Regions from separate parts of the Homo sapiens genome. Here all the other regions are linked to region 5. Evidence: fine-mapped expression QTL. A gene starts in region 5. Each other region holds a variant in brackets. All regions are shown on one strand. Distances are from middle to middle.

Region 1 (4,075 bases), 310 kb before region 5:
AGCGTTAGGAGACAGCAACCCCCAGAGTCAGAAGCCGGGGCTGTGTGGGCCCAGCATCCCTGTCCTTCCCCAGTACATGAGTGCTCCTGGGTCCCCGGCTTGCCCCCAACCCTGCAGCTCTCGGGACTTGCCTGTCATTGCGTGAGCCAACTCCCTGTAACAAGCATCTCCGTGTGCGTGCGTGCGTGCGTGTGCATGTGCGTGTGTACACACATTCTACGAGTTCTGTGTTTCGGCAGAACCCTGCCCAGTAAGCTCGCCCGGGGCTGTGTTGTCTGCAGATGGAGCAGCGACAGTGTGTGGGAGGAGCAGGGGCAGAGAAAGTCGGGGAGACTCGGCTGCCGTGGCAGCCTCACACTGTGTTGTGGACCCAGCGATTCCTCAGAGGCACCAAGGGAAGTGGTTAAAACAGGAAGACCCGCTGCACGCTCTCACCCACGGGAGCGGGGGGAACCCATCGCATGGAGTTGGGGGAGAAGGAGGGTGCAGGTGTGGGGTGGGCGGGGATGAACGGAGGCTGGTCAGTGGGTACAGACGCACAGCCAGATGGAAGGAGTAAGACCTCACGTTCCACAGCCGAGTGGGGGCGGACTACAGTCAGCCACATGTGCTGTCTACTTTAAAACAGTGAGAAGAGAGGACAGGAGGTCTTCCCAACACTTAGAAATGACCAGTCCATGAGGTGACGGATACCCCAAATACCCCTGTGTGGCCACTGCCCATTCTGGGCATGCAAGACAACATCACCTACACCCCATAACGATGCACGAACACTGTGTATCCATTTAAAAACCGACAGCAAAAAACCCTAATCTTCATTGACTGAATAAAAAAGATTCACGGGACATCCGGTCCAGACAGAAAAGGGTGCAGATTCATGTTCCCTGCTCCTCCTGCAAAGCTCGGCTCTGAGCCCTGGAGACGACGAGACAGGCAACCCAAAGAGAGGGTGGGGAGGTGGGAAGAGGGCGGAGAGGCGGCCTGGAGCCAGCAGTGGGGACTCAGGACCCCTGCCCAGCAGATGGCAGCCCAGATGACACACTCCTGCCTGGACCGGAGCCTGCAAAGGGAACCCCGGCACGCTGCGGGTCTGAGACGTGGTATCGGTGAGGGAGGCGGCCCTGAGGCGCCCTTCCCTGCTCAGACACAGACGCTGGAAAGCCAAAGATTCTTCCACTAGATTAACCTATAACTTCAGTGTAATTTCAGTAAAAAATAAAACCTTGATACCTTTTTTTTGAATTTGACTAATTCTTTTTTTTTTTTTCTTTTTGGAGACAGGGTCTATCTCTGTTGCCCAGGCTGGAGTGCAATGGTGTGATTTTGGCTTACTGCAACCTCCATCCCCCAGGTTCAGGCGATTCTCCCACCTCAGCATCTATAGTACCTGTAGCTGGGACTACAGACACCCTCCCGCCACGCCTGGCGTTTTGTGTTTTTAGTAGAGACAGGGTTTCACCTTGTTGGCCAGGCTGGTCTTGAACTCCCGACCTCAGGTGATCCACCCGCCTCAGCCTCAGTGCTGGGATTACAGGCATGAGCCACCGCGCCTGGCCGTGACAAAGTAATTCTAAAATTAACTTAGAATAATAAACAGGTAAGAAAACCTTTAAGTCAAAAAAAAGGATAAATGAAATTAAAAAAAACAAAAGATCTGAATACAGACCCGATTTTGCCTAAGTTTTAATAAAGATGAAGGTATAAATCTACGGGGAAGGAAGGATTCTGAGATAAATGGCCCTAGGGCAATTGTTTAGTGATCTGGAAAAAAAATCAATTTAGATCTCGACCTCATACCATACACCAAAATAAGTTTCAAGTAGATTAAATCTTTAAATATAAAAATAAGCTCAAAGAGCCCAGAAGAAAATAGAATTATTTATCAAATCACTAAAGTACTTACTAAGCTTAAAAGCAACGGAATTAACAGATAAGAGAGAACCTGAAGACGAGGGGTTCAGGTTCTGGGAAAGATGAAGAAACCAATCAGCCCTGTCTCTCCCTGAGGCAGCTCTGACGATGGAGGGAGTGCAGCCAGCAGCCGACTACAGACCTGGAGAGCCACAGGCTGCAGGCGGGCTGAGGTCGGAACCCAGAACCACTAGCATCACCAGCCCAGCGGCGAGCGCCCTGCTTCCAGCTGCGAGAGACATGCAGCTGGACCTGGCCGCGCCGCGTCTTTACTGCGCTGCACCCCACGAGCCACGAAGGCAGAGTCTCCATTCACACAGACCTCCCACGCCTCGCCTCAGCAGCTTGCCGTTGTCGGCGTGCTGTGGTGTTAGTGATGCCTGCAGATTTCATCTTCAGAAGAGTGAACAGAAACGGCATGTTTTTAATTTCGGTTTCCACATGTGCACTGCTATTGTGTAATATTTACAGAACTACACAGACACACGGACATATTTCTCATAAAGTGAGCTCAGCAAGGTTGCAGGATACAAGAGCCACACACAGAAATCCCGGGTGAACTCGCTCGACTCGTTTTTATCTTGTGATTTTCGACATAATCACGCCACCTGTGAAGAGGAAAAGGGTC[G/A]GTCCTGCCTTTCCAGTCCGTGTGCCTTCGACCTCCTCACCCTGCTGCCCATCTGGGGCTCTGGGACATGGACCAAGGCGGTGAGAGGGAAGGCCTCTGCCTGAGTCGGCGTTTCCCAGTCCCTCACCAGCCAGGTCTGCGGTGAGCTGCACGGTTTCTGCAGATGCTCTTTGGCAAACTTGGGGGTTCTCGGCTTCTCCTGGTTTGCCGAGTTTCCCCATGAACGTGTGTTGGGCCTCGCTGACTGCATTTGTGCATCCGTTGGTTTGGCCATGTAATTTTTCCTTTTGGCGAGCTGACGCGATGGATTGTACCAGCTGACGCTCGACACCAACCCAGCCTTGCACTCTCAGAAAACAGAAAATAGCCCCGCAGTGTTCTTCAGTTTTGCCACTGGTTTTGAAGTTGGGGTAAATGCTTGCTTCACAGAGTGAGTTGGGAAGTGCTCCCTCTTCTGTTTTCTTGGAGAGTTTTGGCAAATTGGTGCTAAGTTTTCTTTAAGTGTTTGGTAGAATTCACCAGAAAACCATCTGGGCCTGGAGATATCCTTTTTTGGAAGCTTTTTGATTGTGGATTCAGTTATTTAATGGTTCTAGGATTAATGAGACGATCTATTTCATACTGGGTGAGTTCTGCAGTCTGTGGTTGAAGCTTGCTGGAGTTTCTGTCACTGGTTGGGTGTTTGCCCTGGTGCTACCCAGTCTGGACTTGGGGACCCCTAAAACCTGGGAGTGAGCACAAGACGCACACAGCTTGTCAAGAGAAGCCTGAGAGGCAGTGTGGGAAATTCTGTCTGTCTCCATCCTCTTCTACCCTGACACCCAGGCAATCCTGCGCTCTTCCGCCCCGGCACCCTGGCACCCCCGCGCTCTTCCGCCCCGGCAGCCGGGCAACCCCGCGCTCTTCCGCCCCGGCACCCGGGCAATCCTGCGGAGGTACAGCCACAGCTGGACAGACGCCTAGAGCCCAAGAGTGGGCCCCTCCCTCCAGACAGGGTGCGTGGGGCATGTCCTGCCCTGTTCCAACGCTGTGGCTGGCGTTGGCCGTGAAGGCGGCTGTGGCCGTGGGACTGACTGCACAGCACAGTGGGCAAGCCTTGCCTGGCTCTGTGGCCAGAAGGCAGTGAAGGGAACCCTGGGTCACCTGGGAAGTGCTGGGTGCTCAGAGTGGCTCTGGAAGGTGCCCTCTAAGCTGGGCATGGGGCTCTGACCCTAATCAGCACCCCACAGGTGTGAGAGTTGGACTCTGAGCTAGACCACACCAGGACCCAGCCAGGACTGTGGAGGACACAAGGTTCAATGGCCTGGGAAACTCGGCAAAGAGCCTGAAATGGAAGTGCCATCAGGAAATGCTGAAACCAACAGAAATTTACATTCTCCAGAGAACTTAAGAAAGACCTAGAATCTCGGGATATTCAAAACATCCAGAATGCAATCTAAAATTAAGCAGCATGAAAAGAACCGGGAAAACAGAAACCTGCCAGGGAAAACACGACCAACAGGCGCCAAGATGACGGAGATGCTGGAATTATCGAGT
Region 2 (4,075 bases), 360 kb before region 5:
TGAAGCCAACATACACCTGCCACGCTGAACCCAACATACGCCTGCCACGCTGAACCCAACATACGCCTGCCACTCTGAACTCCTGCACCTGTGATGGCGGTGCAGGCTTCCCCGGAGGGCCAGCAGCTCGGAGCCCCAGAGGAGATGTGGAGGGGACATGGAGGGGACAGGGTCTAGGGTCCCCACACTTGGGGGTGGAGGAGATGAGAAGAGAGGGGGCAGAACTACGGTGGCTCAGAGCCCACAGGACAGAGAAAGCAGAGGGAGGGAGAGACAGGATGAAGACCTCTCATCTCCAGGCTCTGCTGTGTTCCAGCATGACTCCCAGGCGGCAGCTCCTGCTGACAGATACAGGCCCAAACAGCCCAGTCCAGGCCCCAGGCCTTGGGGAGCCTCCTCCACACCCTGCAGGCCATCTGCGCTCCCTCTGTCCCCTGTCCCGCGACAGAGAGGCTGACACCTACCCCGCAGGGCTGCCTGCAGGGTCAGACATGCACACTGTGAGCCCCACGGGGTGCTGCAGGCCTGGGACTCAAACACTCTATAGAGAGGATCGGGGCCACACTGGGGCTGCCGCACCGTTTCCCAGATGACAGGTCATGCCCAGCGGCCTGGCCGATGGCCCTGAGCCCCAGGAAGTGAGGCCCCTGGTCCAGGTGCACCAGGCCTCCCCACAGCACCTGCTCCTGGGTGAGCCCTCACCCTCTGCGCTGCGGCTTCCCCGTCTGTCTCTGCTCCCAGGCCCTGAGCCTCAGGGCAGGCAGCTCCTCCTGTTCATGTCTAGCCCATGTCTGGCATCCAACAGTCGCCTGCGACACCGAACTGGGCTCAGCTGAACGAGAGGCCTTTCTTTCCAGAACAGGATCCAGGCTGAAAATCACCTCCAGGACGCAGCCCAGGGCAGAGGCCGCTCTCTGCTCCCGCCGGCTCACACTCACACGGGCAGGTCTCCAGGGCTGTCCTCCTGGCTGCGGACTCCTGGGCACTGGACCGTGCCTCTCTCATCTGCCCCCAGCACAGGGCCAGACACGGGTGATATGGAGAAACGCTTGCTGAACGAATAAACACAGGAATGAAAAGCCAGCTCCGAGCCTTCTGTGTGCTGAGATCGAACTCCACAGTGAGGATCGTTCTGTTTGGAGAGGACACCGCGATGGACGTCAATAAAACGTCAACGCTTCCAGTCAATTCAAACACCCAGGGTGGGGGGCGCGTCAGAAGGAGAGAAAGCCGGAAACTGTCACGGAGAGAGAGATGGCCGTGATCTTTAATCCAGAAATCCCACTTTGGGGACTTTATCCCCAGGTGAGAAACGGAGAGAAGAAAGGGCCCAGCCCAGCAATGACGCAACGAGTCACACAGGGAAGGGCTGCATGCCGAGCCGTGGAGGAGCGGGGAGGAGCCCCCCGTGGGGCTGGTGGGCCCGGTTCCAATTCTGGTGCAGCCTCTCCTGCCTCAGTGTCCCTTTTCATAAGGGGGGCCTTGACCCCCACCGTAAATGTGTGCAGGGAGCCTGGCTCACAGGCCCCATCCCCGGCTGGGGAGTCCCCTCTGGACCTCACGGGCTGGGGCGCGAGTCCGGGTCCTGTCCTGGGGCCTCAATGGGCTAGAGAGCGCCAGCCCTAAATGGGGTTGTAATTACAGCAAGAGGGTGGGAGCAGGGGCAGGGCTCTGGGAGGAGGTTGGGGAGGCCTCAAGGAAGGTGGCATTTGGGCTGAGTCCTGGAGGATGCGAGGGGCGGTGGGGAGGGGCAGGTGGGGAGCCCTGGTGGAGAGCTAGTAGGAGCACGGCACGGCCGGGGCTGGACAGTGCTGAGGGGTACGGGCAAAGCACCTGGGCTCTCTACGGATGGGGGCCAAGGGGCTCTTCTGGGGCTGGGCAGGGGGCTCTGCGGTGGATGGAGGGGTAGTGGGAGATCCTGGCAGGGGACACACCAGCTGCCCACTGCTGCCTCCCTCACTGTAACCCCCGACCACCATGGGGGAGTGGGCACCCCGGGTGCAGGATGTGCCCTGACAAGGGCCGCAGCTCACCCCTGATGGACACCCCCA[C/T]CGAAGCCCAAGCTGGCCCTGAAGCCCAGTGGGGAGACGTGTGTTTGGGGAGCAGGCAGGGCTTATCCTGCCTCCAGATGCTGAGGGACTCCTGGCCCTGAAACTGCTCCCCGTGGCTGAACGAGAATGGATGCTGAGCCCATCAAGTCGGCACCAGGGAGGAAGCGTGGAGCACACAGGCCCAGGCTGAGGCCAGAGGGCCTCTTGGAGCACCCCACGCCAGGGTCAGTTCCGGTGGGGAGGCGTGGAACACACACAGGCCCAGGCTGAGGACAGGCGGGCCTCTCTGAGCACCCCATGCTAGGGTCGGTGCTTCTGCCTGGCCACCGGGGATCCCGGGACGGTGTTCCAGGCTCTCCATCTGCACCGGAGTGGGGATGGAAAACGAAGGTCAGGCTGCCCAGCAGACAGTGGCTGGCGCCAGAGGTCAGTGCAGCGAGGCCGTCTCGGTGCACGGCTGGTAAGACCCGGGGTCTCCCACCAGCGCATCAGCTTTGGGGAGGTGACACACACTGGCAGACAACCGTGTCATCGCACGGCCAGGCTGGGCCACAGTGCAGAGGACAGAGGGGGTGACCGTGGCTTGGGATGGTCAGGGAAGCGTCTCAGGAGGAGACGTTGCAGCAGCACCGGGACGGGGGTAAGACGGTGGCCAGGCCGTGACATCGAGGGTAGCACCCGCCGTGGCCAGGGTGAGGCTCTGGTGGAGGAGAGGAGGCGGAGGGCTGACCTTTTGATCTTGATAATCCTATAGCTTTCCGCACAGCTTGTGGCTGAGTGCGGCTTCCTTAAAAAAAAAAATAAAAGCGCTGTTGAGTGGCTCTCACCTATCAGCATTACCCAGAGGCAGGTGGCTCTTCATCGATCGCCTGGTGGGCTTAGGAATTGACCCAGGAGGGAAAAGCAGCTCGCAGCACACCACCTGCTACCTGCTCGATTGGGGCCTTGTGTGGCTCAGCAGGACCCACAGGCCCTCCCGCCTGGGCACTTAGTGTACACGGGGAGGGGTGGGGCTGGAGGGCTCCAGGAGAGAGAGGTTGGGTAGGATGGTAGAGAGGAGGGGCAGGTATAGGGAGGAGGGGAAGGCAGGGAGAGAACACAGAGGCCTCCGGCTCTGCAGCATGGAGACCGGCCACACCCCAGGCCTGGCCATAGGCACCCTGCACCTGTGCCCAGTGAGTGGCCCCCACCCCGGGCCCCGGCTGGGCCTGGGAGCTCCAGGGCAGGCATACTCCGAGCCAAGGGCCTCCTTCCCCTCTGCAGGGCAGGCTGGGCAGGTACAATCAGGACAAGCTCCCTGTGAGACTGGGGACCCAGGCCCAGTCCCAATCCAGGTGAAGGTCCCTTCCTTCTGCCCCAGAGACGACTAACGAGCAGCTCCCCTGGCTGCCCCAGAGCCCCCCACAGGGGCCATGGCTTCTGACCCTTCAGACTCAGCTGTTCCCAGGGGCCCTGCTGCTGCCCTGCCCGCCCCCACGGCTGCACTCAAGCCTGCGCTGTGCACACCGAGGCCAGCTGAGTACCGGATAGGACCTGGGCTGAGGCTGCCCAGCTCACAGGGAAGCAGAAGCCGAGAGACCAAGAAGAAAACATCCCCCAACTGGCTGACAGTCGCCCTCCTCGACCCCAGATGCCACTAAGAACAACGCGAAGTTCTGGCACGCAGGGAGGGAAGTCCGTGTTGACTTGGGGGCGGGTCTGCAGCAGGAAGGCTGGGCACACCCTCCACTGGCTGCTCACTAACTCCCCTGCTGGCAGAACCTTCCGCTGCACAAGCAGAGGAGAAAGGAAGGCGTGGAACACAGCAGGTGGCCCACACGGGCTGGGAGGGGCAGGGAGAGGAAAGGCGGCAAGGTTCCCAGCAAAAGAGAAGACGCCACTCCAGGAACCCCGGGAGGTATAAGGGAACCCTGTTTAGTAACGCTGCATGTGCAACAGATAACAGGTAGTTCACGTGCACAGACGTGTGCGAACATCTATGATGTAACCGAGCGGGGCTGTGCAGAGCAACTGTTACAGGCTGA
Region 3 (4,075 bases), 880 kb before region 5:
CTGTGGACGTCCAGTTGTCCCAGCACCGTCTGTGGAAAACGCCCATTGAATGCCCTTGTTGGAAAAAATCAGTGAACGAGTGTGTTTATTTCTGGTCTCTGAATTTTCTTTTATTCCCTTAATCTGCATGCGTGTCTTTACCCCAGGACCACACTGTGTTCATTACTGCAGCTTTGTAGTAAGTTTTGAAATCTTAGTAGGGGGTGGGGGCGAGGGGCAGCTGAGGGAAAGGCCACAGCCGCTGGAGTCCCCTGGCCCTCAGTTGGGGCCACCCAAGCTGCCCGGCCACTGGAGGCTGGGAGGGGCCCATTCCTGGTGGTCTCGGGACAGGCCTGGAGGCCCTCGGCTGTGGTGAGCCAAGATCTGCAGGGGGACTCGGGGCTGACCGAGCTGGCCCAGAGCAGATGGCGGCTCAGCGCCCAGGCTCAGGGCGTCCATCCTGCGTCCCATGAGCTATGGCTGCCGACCCCGATGGGTGCCGCGCTTTCCAGTTTGCTCCCTCCCGCGTCTCTGCTGACCATCCCCACCTGTAGGTGAGCACACAGAGGCTTGGAAGGTACTGAGGGTTTGTCTCTGCCCTGCAAGTCACACAGGGGAGTCCCCAGTCCCCTGGGCAGCATACGGGCCTCCCACGGGATCCCAACCCACAGCTCCTGGAGAGTCCTTTAGGACAAGACCCTAATGCTGCCCCTGAGGCCTTTGGGGCCTCAAACTCCAAAGAGAGAAGAGGCCATTCCCTGAGCAGGGGAGCCGCTGCGGCCGGGCCTCCTGCCCTAACACGCACGCCCGACGTGCTGAGCCAGTGCAGCGGCCCCACAGGTGCAGGCCCCCGCCCCCAGCTCCACACCATGCCCCCAGTACAGGGCCAGGACCTCCCCAGGCTAAGCTCCCGCTGCGTCCCAGAGGGATGTAAACCCCAGAGGGCCCCAAAGGAGCCCACGTTTGCCCCAACCTGTACATTCTATGCTCAGGTTTATAACCAGAGCTTCCAAGAGGAATCTGGGCAGCCACCGCCCACCCTACCCCACCCCTCCCTACATGGATAGCTACAGGCAGGGCCCAGGCCCCCATCACTCTCGGCCACCGGCACACAGGTCCAGGCCCTCGCCTTCTCCCAGGGCCCCCAATGCCTCTGCCAGGAAGCCTCCCCCACAGGCTGAGTTATTTACTTTCCTTAATAACCTTTTATGAGGGGCCTTGCCGCGGCCTTCAGGAGGACAGGGAACCGGCTTCGAGGTCATCCTTTGGCCGGGATTTTATTAACTTCAAGTCAGGCTCGAGGCAGGTGAAGGAGCCTCTCCTCCACCCCAAAGGGTTGTGAGGCGCTCCAGGTGAGGTGTGACTGCCCTGTTCAATTAAATCCTCCGTCTGCACCTCGGCCTGGGTGGCGGCGGCGGGCAGGAGACCCCGCAGCAGCTTCCGCGCGGCATGTCCCCTGCCCACCGCCTTCCCCACCCACTGGGCTCTGAACAGCAGACCTGGGGTTTCCAAAAAAATCAACTGTCAGCCGCGCGCGGTGGCTCACGCCTGTCATCCCAGCACTTTGGGAGGCCGAGGTGGACAGATCACCTGAGGTCAGGAGTTCAAGACCAGCCTGGCCAACATGGTGAAATCCCGTCTCTACAAAAAAAAAAA[GA/G]AAAAAAAAAAGTAGAAAAATAAGCCGGGCATGGTAGTGTGCGCCTGTAATCCCAGCTACTCGGGAAGCTGAGGCAGAAGACGCGCTTGAATCCAGGAGGTGGAGGTGGCAGTGAGCTGAGATTGTGCCACTGCACTCCAGCCTGGGCAACAGAGCAAGACCCCGTCTCAAAACAAAATAATAATAAAAATAAATTGAAATCGAGAGGAACGTTAGACAAACCCGAATTGATGGACATTCTACAAATATCCTGCCTGGACTTTTTGAAAATGTTAATTGCAGAAAAGATGAAGAAAGGCTGAGGGTCCCAGGCTGAAGGAGATGGGAGTGGTGTGCAGAGACAGCACCCTGTGGCCGTGGGCTGGATTCGGGACTCGGGATATGGTGGGATAAAGGGCATGATTTAAATGTGGGCCATGGAGCGGCCACCATCAACAAGACCTTGTCTTATTCTGCTCTAGTTGGTCACAAATGCAGAACCTCGGGCCCTGTCCCTGGCCAACTACACATTTTTAATTTTGCTTTTTTTTTTTTTTTTTTTTTTGAGACAGAGTCTCACTCTGTCACCCAAGCTGGAGTGCAGTGGTGTAATCTCACCTCATTGCAACCCCTGCCTCCTGGGTTCAAGCGATTCACCTGCCTCAGCCTCCTGAGTAGCTGAGATTACAGGTGCCCGCCACCACACCCAGTTAATTTTTGTATTTTTAGTAAAGACGGGGTTTCACCATGTTGGCCAGGCCGGTTTTGAACTTCTCACTCACCTCCAATGATCTGCCCGCCTCAGCCTCCCAAAGTGCTGGGATTACAGGCGTGAGCCACCTGTGTCCAAACCCTGGCTCGTTTCCTTGCAGGGCAATCTGTTTCCTCCTGTGTCTAAGCTTTGTCACCTGCGACATGGAGGTGCCTGAGGCACAGGCCTGTCGGGGATCCTGTATGGCCATGGTGTTGGTGACAGTGCAGGCAGGGGCAGGTTCCCGGCGAGGCTCTCTGAGCCCAGGCCTCTGCAGCTCACCGGGCAAGTACGGTTTCTCCGCTGCCCTGTCCATAGGCGCCACGCCGACCCCAAATCATTTGCACCCAGCACCTCTGTTTGGTGAAGACGATTTTGCAAACAGCAACTAGTTTAGATATCTAGAATGTTTCCCCAAAGCCTAGCACCCTTCAATTCCACCCTTTAATCACAATGAATAAAGCTGCACAGGACGTTGACTTCAGTGACGCAGGCGCTGGGGTGCCATTCTGTGCAGAGATGTTAAGGAAAATGCTTGGGAAACGGTTATAGCAAAGCATCAGCTCCCTCACCCCTTGCTCAGCACTCTGTGTCCAGGCCTTGCAGGTGCTGAGGACGCCCCATACCCAGGACGGCCCACCATGCCCAGGGAGCTCCTCTGCTGATGCCCACTGAGCCGGGAAGCACTTCCGTGCATGGCCCAGCCAGGCGGGAGAGTGCATTTGCTTTCTAGACGGAAGCAGGCTCCTTGCTCACCATCCCACGTTGCCCCTGGTTACCCTCCTCGCCCGGCCCTCTCCACAGTCCTCTGAGCAAGTGGGGGCCATCCCATTGCACGAATGGCCCAGAGCGGTGCATACTTTCCTGAGGCTGCCCAGACTGTGAGGGGTCAGGGGCACAGGGCTTCTGTCTCCAAGCTGCCTTGGGGCTGCTCCCAAGGGTGGGTCTGGCCCTGTCGGCCCCGCAGGCCCGCCTATCCCCACCCCCTGCTCACCTGCCCTGCACCTGCCGCCCCTCCCCTCGGGGCTGCCCCCGTCCCGGTCTTCGGCATCCAGCCTGGGAAGAGCCACCCAGCTATTTACCATGGACTCATTTAAGTTGGTTAATTTTTAATAATGTTGAAATTTCCATGTGAATAATTCAGGTAAATTATTTATTAAAGCGCAGGATAAAGGGACCAGGACAATTACCAGCTGACAGTGTTAGCTGCGGCATGGTGAGGTGGGTGAGGTGGGCGCGGTGCAGGCGGGAGGGAAGGCCTGCGGATGGGCGGTGTCACACTGACCCTCACCCTGGACACCAGGCCTAGGAGGGCTTGGCAGGGATGCCCTCCAAACCCTCTTCTCCCTCCACGGCCCCACTAACAGCCTGGCCACCTGACCCTGCAGCCAGATGGCCCCTGGCTCCCTCCTGAGCTCCATGCACCCACCTCCAGCCGCTTCCCTTACACCCCTGCGGCCCCTCTGGCATGAGGGAAGCCTGGAATCCGTCTGCCGAGGCCGGAGGGAAGTTTTCTATGCACCAATCTCATTCCGTCAGCCCGAGTCAGCCCCATGGCAGTGACTGACCATTGCACTTAGATAGGACACCCTGGACCCTGCGAGGCTCCTGGGGCCTGGCCAGCCTCGCTCCCCACTGCAGCCCGTGGCAGCCACTGGCTCCTCTGTGACCCTGCATGGCTGTTCCTCCTGCTGGCACAACGCTCCCTG
Region 4 (4,075 bases), 470 kb before region 5:
CGGAACTGCACTGTGCCTGGCCTGACATCCTACCCAGCACACTCACCCACCGCGGGTGCCTGGAGCGCCACGGGATCTGCCGGCCAAACGGCCCAAGTGGCAGGATTCCTTGGACCTGAGCCTCGAGCTGTGGCAGAGTCCTTGCATCAAGGCGCCACTTGAACCTGGCATTTTCCATGCCTGTTGATGAGTGTGGCAGAGCCGTTTTACCTAACGCAGAATAATCTGCTCCTGCATCTAACACAGCCTACGGAGCCCGGTGCTCCTGTCTTCGTGGTAGAAGGTACTAGGCACCGTCGCTTGTCTTTTACCTTTCAGGAAACATCCCAGCCTGCCAAAGACTGTTACCAGGGGCCCCCTGGCCACCTGCCGAGTGGGTGGGGGCAGTATCAAGAGGTCATCCTTCAGGTCTGCAGGGCCACGTCTGGTACTAACTGTTTTAGGCTGAGCTTGCTCGAGGCAGAGCCTGAGACAGGAATTCTTTGCAAGTGATTAGGGGGTTCTCTCAGGAGGAAGAGGAGAGTTGTTTGTTTTTGTTTTTGAGACGAGTTTCGCTCTTGTTGCCCAGGCTGGAGTGCAGTGGTGCGATCTCGGCTTGCTGCAACCTCTGCCTCCCAAGTTCAAGTGATTCTCCTGCCACAGCCTCCTGAGTAGTTGATGACAGGCACCTGCCACCATGCCCAGCTAATTTTTGTATTTTTAGCAGAGATGGGGTTTCATCATGTTGGCCAGGCTGGTCTCGAACTCCTGACCTCAGGTGATCCTCCCGCCTCGGCCCCCCAAAGTGCTGCGATTACAGGCGTGAGCCACCACGCCCGGCCGGAAGAGGAGATTTGAACACGGACCACAGAGGGCCGGTGTTGTGAGGCTCCAGGGAGGAGACGGCCATCCACAAGCCAAAGAGAGAGGCCTCAGGAGGAATCAGCCTTGCCACACCTTGACCGAGGACTTCCGGCCTCCAGAGCTGTGAGCAATAAATGTCAGTGGTTTAAATCGGCCAGCCTGGGGTGTTCGTTATGGCAGCCCTCGCAGACCAGCACGGCCAGGACGCTGCCAGTTCCCGGCTCCACCTGCCCTTCCTCTGACAGGGAAGGAGAGTGGAGAAGTTGAGCTGCTTGGATGCCCTATGCCCTATGAGGCCTCTGCCTGATCCCACAGAGGACTCTGCAACACAGAAGGAATCACAGAATCTGCCCTGCCCTGGGTCCGTCAGGAACTTACTGCAGGCAACCAGGGGTGGGGACCGAACTTCCTGATACATCATTGCATTAGGGTGGGCAGCTCCAGGGGCTAAGTCTCCAGGGAGGGCTGCAGGGCCGCCACCTGCAGCTATGGGACCTGGGGGGCCAGACAGGCAGACAGACCCCACCCACCAAAAAGTCACACCGAGGGCCGGGTGCGGTGGCTCACACCTGTAATCCCAGCACTTTGGGAGGCCGAGGTGGGCGGATCACAAGGTCAGGAGTTCAAGACCGGCCTGGCCAATATGGTGAAATCCCATCTCTACTAAAAATACAAAAAAAAAAAAATTAGCTGGGCATGGTGGTGGTGGGCGCCTGTAATCCCTGCTACTCGGGAGGCTGAGGCAGGAGAATCGCTTGAACCTGGCAGGTGGAGGTTGCAGTGAGCCAAGATTGTGCCACTGCTCTCCAGCCTTGGGGACAGAGTGAGACTCCATCTCAAAAAAAAGAAAAAAACAAAAGCTGCACCGAGGCATGTGCCCATGGGCCCATGTTTATTTTGATGTGAAGATGTTTTGAACGCTTATTTAACAAAATTTATCCATCTCTTGTCTTTACAGATTCTGTTTTGTTTCAGAATTTCATAATAGTCCCATTCACAACAGCCAAAAATAGAAACGACTGAAGCGTCCACCAACAGGGGAAGGACCGAATTACAATATGACCAGAGACTAAACGCCGGCAGCGGTGAAGACGGATGGATCGCTGGCATTCTGCACAGCACGGGTGAGCTGCACCACACCATGCCATGCCGCAGAGGCCTCACCTGGAAGATTTCCACAGGCCCTATTTTTAATCACTAAGAAACCCAGA[C/G]TGCTCCTAATAGAAAATAATATATAATTTGCTTTTTGTTTTTCGATATCTTTTTTTTTCTTTTGGAGACAGAGTCTTGTGCTGTCGCCCAGGCTGGAGTGCAGTGGTGCGATCTCGGCTCACTGCAACCTCCGTTTCCCGGGTTCAAGAGATTCTCCTGCCTCAGCCTCCTGAGTATCTGGGATTACAGGTGCCCACTACCATGCTCGGCTAATCTTTGTATTTTTAGTAGAGATGGGGTTTCACCATGTTGGCCAGGCTGGTCTCGAACTCCTCAACTCAAGTGATCCGCCCGCTGTGGTCTCCCAAAGTGCTGGGATTACAGGCATGAGCCACCGCGCCCGGCCCAATATCCTTTTATCTTAAACATTTACTACTCTGGGATTTATTTCAGTTTGGCATACAAAGTAGGGAGCTTTGGAATTTTCTTTCAAATGATTGACCAGGTGTTCGGCACGGTTATCGAGCAATCCATTGTACACCCACTGACGCGAGACGCCACTCCCACCTCTCACTAAATCCTCGTCTAGGTGCTGTCTGTTCCCGGCTCCTGCGTTCTCACTCATTGATCTATCTGTCTCTTCCTCCCCAGATTCAGGTTGCTTTAGCTGGTTTAGCTAGTGATGCATTTTAATGTCTGATAGGGTAAGCCCTCTTCATTATTCCTTTCTATTCCCACATTTTTCTCTGCTGTTCTCATGAGAGCATTCTTCAGATGAGCCTTAGAATCACGATCCCACATTGCAGAACGCTTGCTGGGCTTTTGTGTGGGATTGCTTTAAATTTATAGACTAACTTGGAGGGAAATTACATCTTTATAATATTGTCTTCAATGCAGCAACATCGTAACTTTCCTTTTATGCAAAGTGGGTTTTTATATGCCCCAGTGGAGAAGACATTTCTTTTTCTTTTTTCTTTTTTTTCTGTGTGTGCGTGCGTTTGCGTGCGTGCGTGTTTGTGTGTGCACGTGTGTGTGCATGTGTGTGCGTGTCTGCACGTGTGTGCGTGTGCATGTGTGCATGCGTGTGTGCGTGTGCATGTGTGCGAGTGTGCATACGTGTGTGCTGTGTGTGTGCACGCGCGTGTGTGCATGTGTGTGCCTGTGTGTGCATGTGTGCCTGTGTGTGCCTGTGTGTGCATGTGTGCATGTGTGCATATGTGTGTGCATGTGTGCATGTGTGTGCCTGTGTGTGTACGTGTGTGCGTGTGTGTTAGTATCTACCCAGCAACCACTACCCCGGCCTCAGAGCCTCTTTCCTTCGCACTCCCAGGGATGCCGTCCCCACCAAAGGGGTGAAGCCATGAACCAATCGGAGCCAATCAGAGAACTCCATCTCCCCAACCACAGCAATGGATCACAGCCCGGCCGTCGGTCCCTCCGTGAGATTGGGTATATGGGTGTTGGGAAATGAAAGCATTTTCTTTCTCTGGAATTACCATCTGTAAGGATGGGATGGGTCTGGGGAGAGTCTGCCTGCCTGAGAAACGCAACAATAAAAACATTCGCGGAGCCCTTGCTGTGTGCCAGGCCCTGCTCTCCAAAGTTTACAAGCATGGACTCCTGTTGTCCTCACAATAACCGCATGGGGACAGATAGGAGTGATGTTCAAAACATTTAATAACTGGGCTGGGCGTGGTGGCTCACACCTGTAATCCCAACACTACGGGAAACTGAGGCAGGAGGAATGCTTGAGGCCAGGAATTCAAGACCAGCCTGGGCAACATAGTGAGACCCTGTCTCTAAAAAAATTAATAAATTAGCCGAGCGTGGTGGTGAGCACCTGTAGTTCCAGCTACTCAGGAAGCTGAGGCGGGAGAATTGCTTGAGCCCAAGAGGTCGAGGCTGCAGTGAGCTAGGATTGCACCACTGCATTCCAGCCTGGGCCACAGAGCGAGATCCCGTCTCAATAATAACAATAATGATGATGACTGGCAGGACCCCAGCACTGCCTGGTTGAAACGGACCCCACACCGGTATGTGCCAGCCGCATCTCAGCTCCGACAGAATCATCGTCATCCCA
Region 5 (4,000 bases):
TCTGGCCTCTTGCCCAGGCAGGGTGGTTCACGCCTCTAATCCCAGCACTTCGGGAGGCGGAGGCAGGTCCGGAGTTCAAGACCAGAATGGCCAACATGGCAAAACCCCACCTCTAATAAAATACAAAAACTAGCCGGGTGTGGTGGTGTGCGCCTGTAATCCCAGCTACTCAGGAGGCTGTGGCACAAGAATCGCTTGAAACTGGGAGGCAGAGGTTGCAGTGACCTGAGACCGCACCACTGCACTCCAGCCTGGGTAACGGGGTGAGACAGTGTCTCAAAATAAATAAATGAATGAATAAATAAATAAATAAACATAAGCCAGGCACTGTTGCTCATGCCTGTAATCCCAGCACTTTGTGAGGCCAAGATGGGCAGATCACCACAGGTCAGGAGTTCGAGACCAGCCTGGCCAACATGGTGAAACCCCATCTCTACTAAAGCCAGATGTGGTGGCGTGCACCTGTAATCCCAGCTACTCCGGAGGCTGGGACAGGAGATTTTCTTGAACCCAGGAGATGGAGGTTGCAGTGAACTGAGATCGCGCCACTGCATTCCAGCCTGGGTGCCAGAGCAAGACTCCGTTTCAAAAAATAATAATAATTAATTAAAAAAAAAATCTGGCCTCTGGGAATCAGAAACGAGGCATGCAACAGTGACAGTAAAGATGATGATCATCACAGCTGTGCTCATTTTCATTGTTTATTTCTAGTGACATTAATAAGTACTACTACTATTTTCAACTAGGTATCAGAAAGAAAGGTATCTGACATTTCCGAGCACCGAGACTTCTTGAACTTCAGTTTCCTCATCTGTAAACTCATGACAGTGAAATCTACTTGCAAAGTTGTGGGGAACGGGGCCAATATCCCTCAAGTCTTCCACCGCTAGATGATGGGAATACGGCTGCAGGTTGACCAGCACTATATTTGTAAGCTCAGTCTCAACAGGGTGGTGAATTAGGTCTTTTTACACAGATTCTAGAGATGATGAAACCGAAGCTTCAAAAAGTTACAGAACGGAGATTGGAACTTGGGTCTGTCTGGCTTTGGAAGGCTGAAGACAAACCGCAGTAAAGAACTTTGCACCCCCAACACCGGCGCTTACTATGGGCTCATGGCAGGCCGGCCCACCAGCCACAACTAGGGAACAGCCAAGCGCGTTTAAAAGCCAAAGGTAGAACTTCTGCAGCTGCACAGTTTCTGAGTTTCCATTTAACAAGAACCTTGGCCTGGTGCAAGCAGAGGCCTGAGCTCCCCAGGCTGCCAGCCCCGCAGAGGCAGGCCCGCCTGGAAGGAGGCTCCACAGCCCAATTCCTCCATTGCCCAAACGAGATCAGGGTGGCCCTTGCCATCCCCGAGGGGAAACCGGGCCCACACGCCCCCTTCCTGAGAGCGGACCGGCGCGAGCCACCAGGATGCCAAGAGCCCCTGCAGCCCCGACTTCTCCACCAGGCGCCAGCTCAGGCCCCTTCCTCGGCGCGCCGGCACCCTAGCCCGGGGACCCACACGGTAGGCAGCGGGACCCCGGGGCTGGGACCACGAGCACGCGCCCCTCGGCCGCCCGCCCTGGCACAAGGGACGGCTGCGGAGACCCAGGCGAGGGGCCCGCTGTCCCCAGCACAGCCCAAAGGGGGAGTGGGGACAGGGGAGTGGGGAGAGGAGGGGAGAGCACAGAGAGGAGAGCGCGCCCATGGGAGACGGGGCGGGCGCGGGGTCCTGAGGCACGGGGTCTGGGTCGTTGTGCCCCACCCTGGCGAGCACACCCGGTCCGGGCCCTCGGCCCCTCCCTTGCCATTCCCGGGACCCCCGGGACCCCGGGACCCCGCCGCCCGCGCGAGCCGGGCCGCTTACCTCAGCCGCTCGCAGCCAGCTTGCCGCCGCCGCTCGGATCTCCCTCCGCTCCGCCGGCGCCCATTTATCGCGACACTTGCGCCTGCGCTCTCGCGAGACCTGCGTGGCAATCGGGCCGTAAAGAACCGAGTCTGCGCACCGGCTGATCCTGGGGACTCCGCGTCCGCACCCGGAGCCGCCACCCCTGGGAGACTCCGCACGGAAAGGACTCGGAACCGAAGGCTGAGCCAAGGCGCAGTCGGGGGCCCCCCGGCTTTGCGCAGGACGCGCTTCCACTAAGGCTTTCGCCTCGCGCCGTAATGTGTGGAATAGCCGCGCCCACGGCAGCCTCCTCGGACAAACTTGCACCGTTGACTCTTCCCAAAATTTTGCTACTCAGTATCAGCTTGAATCAATCCGTTATTTTGCTTTTTTCTGGGCCCACTAGAAATGCAATTTATGCTACTAGGCTACCTTCCCAGTGCTCTGCAAGCCAGGGCACAGCATCCAATGGGGTGAGGTCAGGCCCCACCATTATTATGGTAACCTTTGTCTATCCTTCAAATTGGAGCCTTCCTGAGAAGAGTGTGCCTTACTCGTTTCCATATTCTCTTCCTCTCCTCCTCCCGTCTCTGCCCAGCCCCTGGCTTCCCTCTAAGAAGATGCTGTTCCTAAGGGTCTGCAATGAATTTTCCTTCTTTCAGAGAAAGACTTCCAAGTTGTGTGCCCCGGGAATGAAATGGAATAAGAGAACGAGGTGGAGTAGGGCAAGAGTCCCTGGACTTAACAACCTGACTGCAACCAGAAATAAAATGAAAAGTCAAAACATCTGGCGGCCGGGCGCGGTGGCTCACGCCTGTAATCCCAGCACTTTGGGAGGCCGAGGCAGGCGGATCACGAGGTCAGGAGATCGAGACCATCCTGGCTAACACGGTGAAACCCCGTCTCTACTGAAAATACAAAAAAAAAAAAAAAAAATAGCCGGGCGTGGTGATGGGCGCCTGTAGTCCCAGCTACTCGGGAGGCTGAGGCCGAATGGCGTGAACCCGGGAAGTGGAGCTTACAGTGAGCCAAGATCACTTCACTGCACTCCAGCCTGGGTGACAGAGTGAGATTCTGTTTCTCAAAGAAAAAAAAAAATCAAAACATCTGACCCGCAGTTTCCTTCGGGGAGCTGGACAGAGCCCCAGATTCCTGATGGAGATTCCTGGGTTTCCAGACTTCCCCCACTGGTCCTTGGAATTTAATCATAGTCAACAAACTCTTCTTGAGGGATGAGTACACCTCCAGGAAATGGCTTTGAGGAAGCCAGTTTAAAAAAAACAAAACTTCAAAGCATGAAAGTACCTTAAAATAATGCAATCTCTATTATTTTATTAAATATAAAGCTGCGTCAAGTTCCTAGATGAGTAAAAGAAAATAAACACACCACATCACTGCTTGCTTTGGCAATTACATTTATGTTCTTGGGAGCCCAGACACTGATATAAATTTCCAGCAAAAACCAAAGCAGACCCACTGCCTGGATAAATTCAGACCATACGTCTTCCCTAATTGTTCCGGGAACTTTTGCTGCTTGAAGAATGCGTGAATTGCTATATTGTTCACCAGAAAGACAGAAGTTAATCCCCAGATGGAAATTTCAGATTTTTCTTTTGGTTTGCTTTTTGGTTTTTCATTTTTGTAGACATGGGGGGTGTTGCTATGTTGCCCAGGTTGGTCTTGAACTCCTGACTTCAAGCAATCCCCCAGCCTCAGCCTTCTAAAGCCCTGGGTTTACAGGCATGAGTGGCCTCACCCAGCCCCCAGATTTTCTACTTTAAACAGCCACACTAAGAACTGGAAATCTGTGCGTGGTGCTCTCAGAGCAGGGGTGGAAAGCCTGTTTGTGTGTGACAGTTTAACAGTCTATAAGATGAAGTCCCGTCAAGGCACACATGGGCACACCCATCCCTGCCTCGGCGGATTCCTTCTGATCCTTCCCACAGTCTGTTTTTCTCCATCCTTCCATCCTCACCTCTTTCTCTTGATAACTTTCTCTTCCCAAATCACAATATAGCGGACTTTTTCATTTTCCATGGCCCCTGAACTTAGTTTTGTCATCTCTTTTTGGTTAAAAAGAGAGAGAGAGAAAGAGAGAGAGAGACTCCCCACTTGTCCTGCTCCATC
Region 6 (4,075 bases), 430 kb before region 5:
CGTCACCATGTTTACCTTGCACAGACGGCATCTTTCAGCAGCAGTTTTCTTGGTCACTTAAAGTTTTTCCGATCACTCATCCCTAAACTAGAAACCGGGCTTCAGGAGCCCCTTGGTGGCTTGAACAGAGGAGATGGCCAGTGGCTGGTGTGGGGACAGCCCAGGAGAATGACTTGTTTTGTGACATCCGAGGCCTCTCTGGAGTCCCTGGCTGGGGGTGGAGATGGTGCTCACTCTAGCAGAGAAATTCAGCTTCTGCCTGACTCCAGGTCACACTGGGCCAGCAGCCTGCAAGAGAGACCTGGCTTCACACCCTCTACATGGGACAAACTCTAAGATATACACAAAGAGGAAAGAAACACAAAAAGCAGCCCAACAGTCAGAGACAGGTTTATTTTGGAGGAATAAACCAGAGAGGGGCTTCTGGCCGATTTTTGGTCAGGAGTGCTCTTTTTTTTTTTTTTTTTTGAGATGGAGTCTTGCTCTGTCGACCAGGCTGGAGTGCAGTGGCGTGATCTTGGCTCACTGCAACCTCTGCCTCCCGGGTTCAAGTGATTCTCCTGCCTTACCCTCCCGAGTAGTGGGGACTACAGGCACCCGCCACCACGCCCAGCTAATTTTTTTATTATTAGTAGAGATGGGTTTTCACCATGTTGGCCAGGCTGGTCGCAAACTCCTGACCTCATGATCCGTCCGCCTTGGCCTCCCAAAGTCCTGGGATTATAGGTGTGAGCCACCACACCCAGTCAGGAGCGCTCTCTCTTACAGAGTAAGGGTATATATTGGTTTTAGGGTGAGGGGGCTTATCACAAGTTTGGAATGTTTCTGTGTGGGGCAGAAGTTTTATGGTGGGGTTGGAATGTCTCTGGGAGGAGGGCAGGTTGTCTGTGGGCTGACTTCTTTCCGGCTGGAGGGGGGTTATCTCAGGGCTGGCGTATCTCTGGTTGGGGAGGGGTTTGGAATGTTTCTGGACGGAGATGTTATTTGTGGTTTATGGTCATGCTGACCTTAGCCATTAGGCTGATGCCCTTTGGATGTAGGCGGCTTTTGATCAAAGTGAACTTTAGAATGGTGGTATTTGTCCAAGATGGGAAAACTCCTGCTCTGTCACAAACTGTTACCGGAGAGGGGTCCCGATCCAGACCCCAAGAGGGGGTTCTTGGACCTCACACAGGAATTCAGGACGAGTCCATAGCGTCACATGAAAGCAAGTTTATTAGTGAAGTCAAGAAACAAAAGGGTAACCACTCCATAGGCAGAGCTGCCGGGGCCGCCGGCTGGCTATTTTTATGGTAATTTATTGAACATATGCAAAACAAGGGGTGGATTATTCATGAGCTTTCTAGGAAAGGGGGCGGAGAGTTCTTGGAACTGAGGGTTCCTCTCCTTTTTAGACCATAGAGGGGAACTTCCAGGCGTCCGCATGGCATCTGTAAACTGTGGTGGCGCTGGTGGGAGTGTCTCTTAGCATGCCACTGTATTATAATTAGCACATAATGAGCATCGAGGATGACCAGAGGTCATGTCCGTCGCATCTTGTCAATAATGACCAGAGGTCACGTCCGTCGCCATCTTGGTTTTGGTGGACTTTGGCCAGCTTCTTAGCCACGTCCTGTTTTATCAGCGGGGTCTCTGTGTCCTGTGTCTTGGGACC[C/T]CCTGTGTCATTCTGTGACGAGGAACACCCAGCCTCCTGGGCTGCAGCCGCGCAGGTCTCAGCCCCATTTTTCCCAGCCCCTGTTCAAGATGGAGTTGGTCTGGCTGGAAGGCCTCTGACGAAAGCGCCTCCTCGCGTCTCTGTTCCGGGATCTTTCATCTCCAGGGGGCTCCTGCGTATGCGGAAACGCCCTCCCGCCTGTCTCTGCTTGTCTCCTGATCAGTTCACTCGCCTTACAAACCTCCTAAGTCTATGTCCCTAAGTATTTAAACACAATTGCACAATTAATGAATCCCAATTTAAAAAATTAACCAATAACATTTCCCAGGTATTTAAGTATTGATTACAGACTTTAATCAAATACTTCTAAATATTAAAATCACAAGCTAAATGTGCTTAAATCACATAGCTAAACGTGCTATGGACCAAATTGCGCGCTCTCCAAATCCACGGTGCAGCCCCAGCCCACGTGTGACCGTGCTTGGAGATAAGGCTTTAAGGACGTGATTAAGGTTGAATGAAGTCCTAAGCGTGGGGCCCTGATCTGATAGGACTGTGGCCTTATAAGAAGAGAGCTCTTTCCTCTCTCCTCCTCTTTCCCTCTCCCCCTTCCTTCCCTCCCAGCCATGGGAAAAGACACCACTCACAAGCCACAAAGAGGCCTCCCCAGGAACTGAACTAGCCCGCACCTTGATCTTTGCCTTCCAGCCTCCAGGACGGAGAGAAATGGATTTCTGTTGTTTGTAAGCAGCCTGGTCTATGAGATGTTGTTGCGGCAGCCTGGGGGGACGCACACACTACAAGTTATTCCCAGGACTTAAAAGCATAGTGCCAGCTGGGCGTGGTGGCTCACACCTGTAATCCCAGCACTTTGGGAGGCCAAGGCGGGCAGATCACGAGGTCAGGAGTTCAAGACCAGCCTGGCCAACATGGTGAAACCCCGTCTCTACTAAAAATACAAAAATCAGCTGGGTGTGGTGGTGTGCGCCTGTAGTCCTGGCTACTTGGGAGGCTGAGGCAGGAGAATTGCTTGAACCTGGGAGGTGGAGGTTGCAGTGAGTAGAGATTGCACCACTGCACTCCAGACTGCGTGACAGAGCGAGACTCCGTCTTGGGGGAAAAAAGAAAAAAAAAAAAAAACCCAGTGTCAGAGGGTGGGAGGGTTTTGGGGTATGATGGAGTGGTGGGTTCACGACTGCATGTTTTTCTTTTCTTTTCTTTTCTTTTTTGAGATGGAGTTTTTTTGCTCTTGTCGCCCAGGCTGGGGTGCAGTGGCGTGATCTCGGCTCACCGCAACCTCCACCTCCCGGGTTCAAGCGATTCTCCTGCCTCAGCCTCCCGAGTAGCTGGGATTACAGGCTCGCGCCTCCACATCTGGCTAATTTTTGTATTTTTAGTAGAGATGGGGTTTCACCATGTTGGTCAGGCTGGTCTTGAACTCCTGACCTCAGGTGATCTGCCCGCCTCGGCCTCCCAAAGTGCTGGGATTACAGGTGTGAGCCACTGCACCTGGCCATGTTTCTTTTCTTGAGACAGAGTCTTGCTCTGTCGCCCAGGCTGGAGTGCAATGGTGCGATCTTGGCTCACTGCAACCTCCATCTTCTGGGTTCAAAAAATTCTCCTGCCTCAGCCTCCCAAGTAGCTGGGATAGCAGTCATGTGCCACCTCACCCAGCTAATTTATTTATTTTTCATTAATTAATTTTTTTTTTTGAGACAGTCTCATTCCATCAGCCAGGCTGGAGTGCAGTGGCGTGATCTCGGCTCACTGCAAATTTTGTCTCCCAGGTTCAAGCAATTCTTGTGCCTTAGCCTCCCAAGCAGCTGGAATTACAGACATGTGCCACCACACCTGGCTAAGTTTTGTATTTTTAGTAGAGACAGGGTTTCACCGTGTTGGCCAGGCTGGTCTCGAACTCCTGACCTCAAGTGATCCACCCGCCTTGGCCTCCTGAAGTGCTGGGATGACAGGCATGAACCACCGTGCCTGGCCAGTGCTTTTTCTTTAAACTACAAACTCCGTCTCCTTCCCACGTACATTTCTCCCGCTCTCAGTGACCACCACTGTATGGCTGTGTTGCTGGTCTCCCTGAGCCTCGGTTTCTCTTCTGCAACCTGGGGGCCCACTCCGGGAGTGAATTGGGAAAAAGCAACTCAGCTGAAGCCTCCAAGCCTCCTCCCGCTCCCTGGCGATCTCCCGGGAGGCTCCTGTAAGGCATGGGCTGGAGGTCGGGGGGCTCGTGGCTTAGAGGTGACTGCTGAGAAATAATCATAACGAAAGGGAAAAACTGAATTTCCTGACAAAAAGGGGGAATCAGATATTTAAGGCAGTCAGTGGGGCTCTTGGCGGCCGTTGAAACCACACTTCTGGAGGAACATAATGGCGTGGACAGAGCCTCATATTCTAATTTTCAGTGAAAAC
Region 7 (4,075 bases), 330 kb before region 5:
GGAACTCATGATTGATCAAGCACTGTTCCAGGCAGCGAGGACGCAGTGGCCTACGGAAGACACTCTTGCGGAACTCATGATTGATGAAGCACTGTTCCAGGCAGCGAGGACGCAGTGGCCTATGGAAGACGTTCTTGTGGAACTCATGATTGATGAAGCACTGTTCCAGGCAGCGAGGATGCAGTGGCCTACTGAAGACGCTCTTGCGGAACTCAAGATTGATCAAGCACTGTTCCAGGCAGCGAGGACGCAGTGGCCTATGGAAGACGCTCTTGCAGAATTCATGATTAATGAAGCACTGTTCCAGGCAGCGAGCACGCAGTGGCCTATTGAAGAAGCTCTTGCGGAACTCATGATTGATGAAGCACTGTTCCAGGCAGTGAGGACGCAGTGGCCTATGGAAGACGCTCTTGCGGAACTCATGATTGATGAAGCACTGCTCCAGGCAGCAAGGATGCAGTGGCCTATGGAAGACGCTCTTGCAGAATTCATGATTGATGAAGCACTGTTCCAGGCAGTGAGGACACAGTGGCCTATGAAAGATGCTCTTGCGGAACTCATAATTGATCAAGCACTGTTCCAGGCAGCGAGGACGCAGTGGCCTATGGAAGATGCTCTTGCGGAACTCATGATTGATCAAGCACTGTTCCAGGCAGCGAGGACGCAGTGGCCTACGGAAGACGCTCTTGCAGAATTCATGATTAATGAAGCATTGTTCCAGGCAGCGAGGATGCAGTGGCCTATGGAAGACGCTCTTGCGGAATTCATGATTAATGAAGCACTGTTCCAGGCAGCGAGGACGCAGTGGCCTATGGAAGACGCTCTTGCGGAACTCATGATTGATCAATCACTGTTCCAGGCAGCAAGCACGCAGTGGCCTATTGAAGACGCTCCTGCGGAACTCATGATTGATCAAGCACTGTTCCAGGCAAGCGAGGACGCAGTGGCCTATGGAAGACGCTCTTGCAGAACTCATGATTGATGAAGCACTGTTCCAGGCAGCAAGGATGCAGTCGCCTATGGAAGACGTTCTTGTGGAACTCATGATTGATGAAGCACTATTCCAGGCAGCAAGGACACAGTGGCCTACGGAAGACGCTCTTGAGGAACTCATGATTGATAAAGCACTGTTCCAGGCAGCAAGGATGCAGTGGCCTATGGAAGACGTTCTTGTGGAACTCATGATTGATGAAGCACTGTTCCAGGCAGCGAGGACGCAGTGGCCTACGGAAGACGCTCTCGCGGAATTCATGATTGATGAAGCACTGTTCCAGGCAGTGAGGACGCAGTGGCCTACGGAAGACGCTCTTGCGGAATTCATGATTGATGAAGCACTGTTCCAGGCAGCGAGGACGCAGTGGCCTACGGAAGACGCTCTTGCGGAACTCATGATTGATAAAGCACTGTTCCAGGCAGCAAGGATGCAGTGGCCTATGGAAGACGTTCTTGTGGAACTCATGATTGATAAAGCACTGTTCCAGGCAGCGAGGATGCAGTGGCCTACGGAAGACGCTCTTGTGGAACTCATGATTGATGAAGCACTGTTCCAGGCAGCAAGCACGCAGTGGCCTATGGAAGACGCTCTTGCGGAACTCATGATTGATGAAGCACTGTTCCAGGCAGCGAGGACACAGTGGCCTATGGAAGACGCTCTTGTGGAACTCATGATTGATGAAGCACTGTTCCAGGCAGCGAGGACGCAGTAGCCTATGGAAGATGCTCTTGTGGAATTCATGATTGGTGAAGCACTGTTCCAGGTGCTTGGAATAGCTCTGTGGGCCTGGGCTCTGTGACCTCCCTCTGGGACCTCTCCCGTGAGTGAGGCCGGCCTGACCCCCATCTGTGTCCTGGGATGATTTTAAGAGGAACCTGGGGCTGGGCACAGTGGCTCACACCTGTAATCCCAGCACTCTGGGAGGCCAAAGCAGGCAGATTATCTGAGGTCAGGAGTTCAAGACCATCCTGGCCAACATGGTGAAACCCT[G/A]TCTCTACCAAAAATACAAAAATTAGCCGGACGTGGTGGCGCACATCTGTAATCCCAGCTACTCGGGAGGCTGAGGCAGGAGAATTGCTTGAGCCCAGTAAGCAGAGGCTGCAGTGAGCCGAGATTGCGCCACTGCACTCCACGCTGGGTGACACAGTAAGACTCCATCTCAAAAAAAAAAAAAAAAAAAAAAAGAGCCGGGGCCTAGCTGTTTACCAAGCACCCGCAGGCACCAGGCAGCACTGCCCTGAGGAGACCAGCCCCTGCACAGCTGAGGCAGCTGGCCCACGTGGGAAGACCCCACAGGAGGAAGAGACGCCAGCCCTGGTGCTTCTGTAGGGTCCCCGAACCCCAAGCAGCCTCTTCCCAGGCTGGCCTCGGTTGTGTATGCCAACACCGCTCCTGCTACCCCGTCCAGGATAACCCCGGCCATGCAGACAGATCTCCATGCTCCCACAGCAAGACTTGAGCTGAGGCAGGGCTCTCTCCTGGGATATTCATGCCCTGCTGGGTGCCCCGGCCTGGCTGCCACTGCAGCTGCATCTGGCCCTAGCCTGACCTGGTCCCAGCCCCGCCCCAGGGCCCTGAGCCACCCTCCCTTTCCAGCTGCCTCTCCTGCACCCTGCTTCTCCATCGCTCCAGTCTCTGGCTCCTGTTCTCCGCATGCTCTTTTCCTGCAGGGCACAGATTGTGGCGTCCACAGAGCTGTTTGAGATGCCTGGGCCTCACGCTCTTTCCCTGCAGTGCAACTGGGCCTCATGCTGTTTCCCTGCGGCGCACCCTGAGCTCAGGTGGGCTGGGCCAGGCCTGTGCGCACTGTCACACCTGCCCTGCACCTGAGAACCCGGAACATGGAAGTGCGCGACGGGTGCGTGTTGAACACGCAGGTGAGCGAAGCCACCATCCCCTACAGACCTGAGCTCCTGCCCCTGCGCAAGCTACACAGTCAGCTTAACCACAAGCAAGCACACACACAGCGGACGGGACACACACGCCTACTGCTGAACGTCCGTTTATCCCCGAACACGTGTGCGTCTGTCCCTGAACACCCGTGTTCATCCCTGAACATACAGCCTTCCCATGGCCTCAGATGAAAAGCCCTTAAAATCAAGGCAGGCCGAAGAGAGGCCATGCCACTGCCCCGCCCCCAAGCCCCCAACCCCATCCCTGCTGTGGCTAACAGGGTCACTGTGAGAGCCAGGGGCCTCCAGGGGCTTCAGCCTGCGAGGGGCGGTGAGGGCACCCATGGCCTCAGAGCAGCTCCCAGCTGCTCAGCCCTTGCCACGCCCCCATCCCCACTATCTCCCCACTGCCACCGCCTTGCCCCTGTCCCACGGTCCCCCAGCTCCTGCCCGACCTGGACCGGTGCCCCAGTGAGGAGCTGGCCTGGGTCTGGGCCCTGCACAGCTGCCACCGAGGACCCCAAGCCCCAGACTCTGCAGCAACTCTCGATTTAGGGACTGGAGGCAGCTTCGGAACTTTTCCTTCAGGGACTCACGGCACAGCCATTTTTCTTTCTAAACAATGAATCAAATACAGTTAACCAATGTTGGGATTTTCAGGCTTTAAAAAACCCACAAAAAGGGACTAATATTTCACCATTAAACAAGGCAGCCCCTGAGGCCCAGGCCAAGCCAGGAGGACAATCCTACTCGGCGTAGGCCCGGCCCCACTGATGACGCCGCCACGGGGCCAGGAGGAAGGGAGTGATTCCAGGCTCCATACACTGCCTGTGCGTTCACGGACAAGTCACCTCATCTCTCTAAGCCCCCTTTCCTCCCTGGGTGTGGCAGGAGTGGGGGAAACATCACCTGCCCCCGGGTCAGTGAGACAGTGGAGGCGAAAACCCTCTCGGCAATAACGTGTTCCTCTTAATAAAACACATCCCTGTGTCGTCAACAACCACTTGGCTGTCTACGGACATCACGGGTGCTCGGCGCGGGATCTGAGTGGCGGGCCTGAGTCCAGGTGTGGAGTGAGGGGGCAGTGCGGTCTGGGCCGCAAGGACACCCAAAAGATCACCTGAGCATGGTCCGGAGAGACAGGGTGACCGCCCTGGCCCCTGCAGTGTGCGGCCCCCTCAGGAGACAG

Direction of the effects. Positions count from the first base shown, and alleles are read on the strand shown. Sizes are in standard deviations (SD) of each study's normalised expression. Not every link is listed here.
For the expression in monocytes after LPS of the gene that starts at base 1,926 in region 5, G is the low allele of the variant in region 3 and GA is the other (large effect, 1.0 SD a copy in Quach 2016).

Evidence for each region. PIP is the estimated chance that this variant, and not a neighbour inherited with it, causes the effect.
Region 1: its variant is fine-mapped to the expression of MAD1L1 in whole blood (TOPMed, PIP 0.98).
Region 2: its variant is fine-mapped to the expression of MAD1L1 in whole blood (INTERVAL, PIP 0.98).
Region 3: its variant is fine-mapped to the expression of MAD1L1 in monocytes after LPS (Quach 2016, PIP 0.95).
Region 4: its variant is fine-mapped to the expression of MAD1L1 in whole blood (TOPMed, PIP 0.95).
Region 6: its variant is fine-mapped to the expression of MAD1L1 in whole blood (TOPMed, PIP 0.98).
Region 7: its variant is fine-mapped to the expression of MAD1L1 in whole blood (TOPMed, PIP above 0.99).

Annotation. Positions count from the first base shown.
Region 1 is chr7:1,920,063-1,924,137 of GRCh38, forward strand. All of the region lies in intron 17 of MAD1L1 (mitotic arrest deficient 1 like 1), which reads right to left. Among named protein-coding and RNA genes, the nearest start is that of MIR4655, 78 kb to the left of the region's middle. The variant G/A (reference allele first, on the strand shown) is at 2,540.
Region 2 is chr7:1,871,707-1,875,781 of GRCh38, forward strand. All of the region lies in intron 18 of MAD1L1 (mitotic arrest deficient 1 like 1), which reads right to left. Among named protein-coding and RNA genes, the nearest start is that of MIR4655, 29 kb to the left of the region's middle. RefSeq lists enhancers at 1,127-1,296, 1,927-2,899 and a cis regulatory region at 1,212. The variant C/T (reference allele first, on the strand shown) is at 2,052.
Region 3 is chr7:1,351,688-1,355,762 of GRCh38, forward strand. No RefSeq gene overlaps it. Among named protein-coding and RNA genes, the nearest start is that of MICALL2, 110 kb to the right of the region's middle. The variant GA/G (reference allele first, on the strand shown) is at 1,636.
Region 4 is chr7:1,759,342-1,763,416 of GRCh38, forward strand. No RefSeq gene overlaps it. Among named protein-coding and RNA genes, the nearest start is that of ELFN1-AS1, 19 kb to the left of the region's middle. The variant C/G (reference allele first, on the strand shown) is at 2,055.
Region 5 is chr7:2,231,020-2,235,019 of GRCh38, forward strand. MAD1L1 (mitotic arrest deficient 1 like 1) reads right to left here and starts at 1,926. Exons shown (of 19, transcript NM_001013836.2): 1 at 1,853-1,926. MRM2 (mitochondrial rRNA methyltransferase 2) reads right to left here. Exons shown (of 3, transcript NM_013393.3): 3 at 3,176-4,000. RefSeq lists silencers at 1,425-1,844, 1,822-2,200 and enhancers at 1,835-2,129, 1,915-2,044, 2,779-3,311.
Region 6 is chr7:1,802,807-1,806,881 of GRCh38, forward strand. No RefSeq gene overlaps it. Among named protein-coding and RNA genes, the nearest start is that of MIR4655, 39 kb to the right of the region's middle. The variant C/T (reference allele first, on the strand shown) is at 1,655.
Region 7 is chr7:1,903,895-1,907,969 of GRCh38, forward strand. All of the region lies in intron 17 of MAD1L1 (mitotic arrest deficient 1 like 1), which reads right to left. Among named protein-coding and RNA genes, the nearest start is that of MIR4655, 62 kb to the left of the region's middle. The variant G/A (reference allele first, on the strand shown) is at 1,985.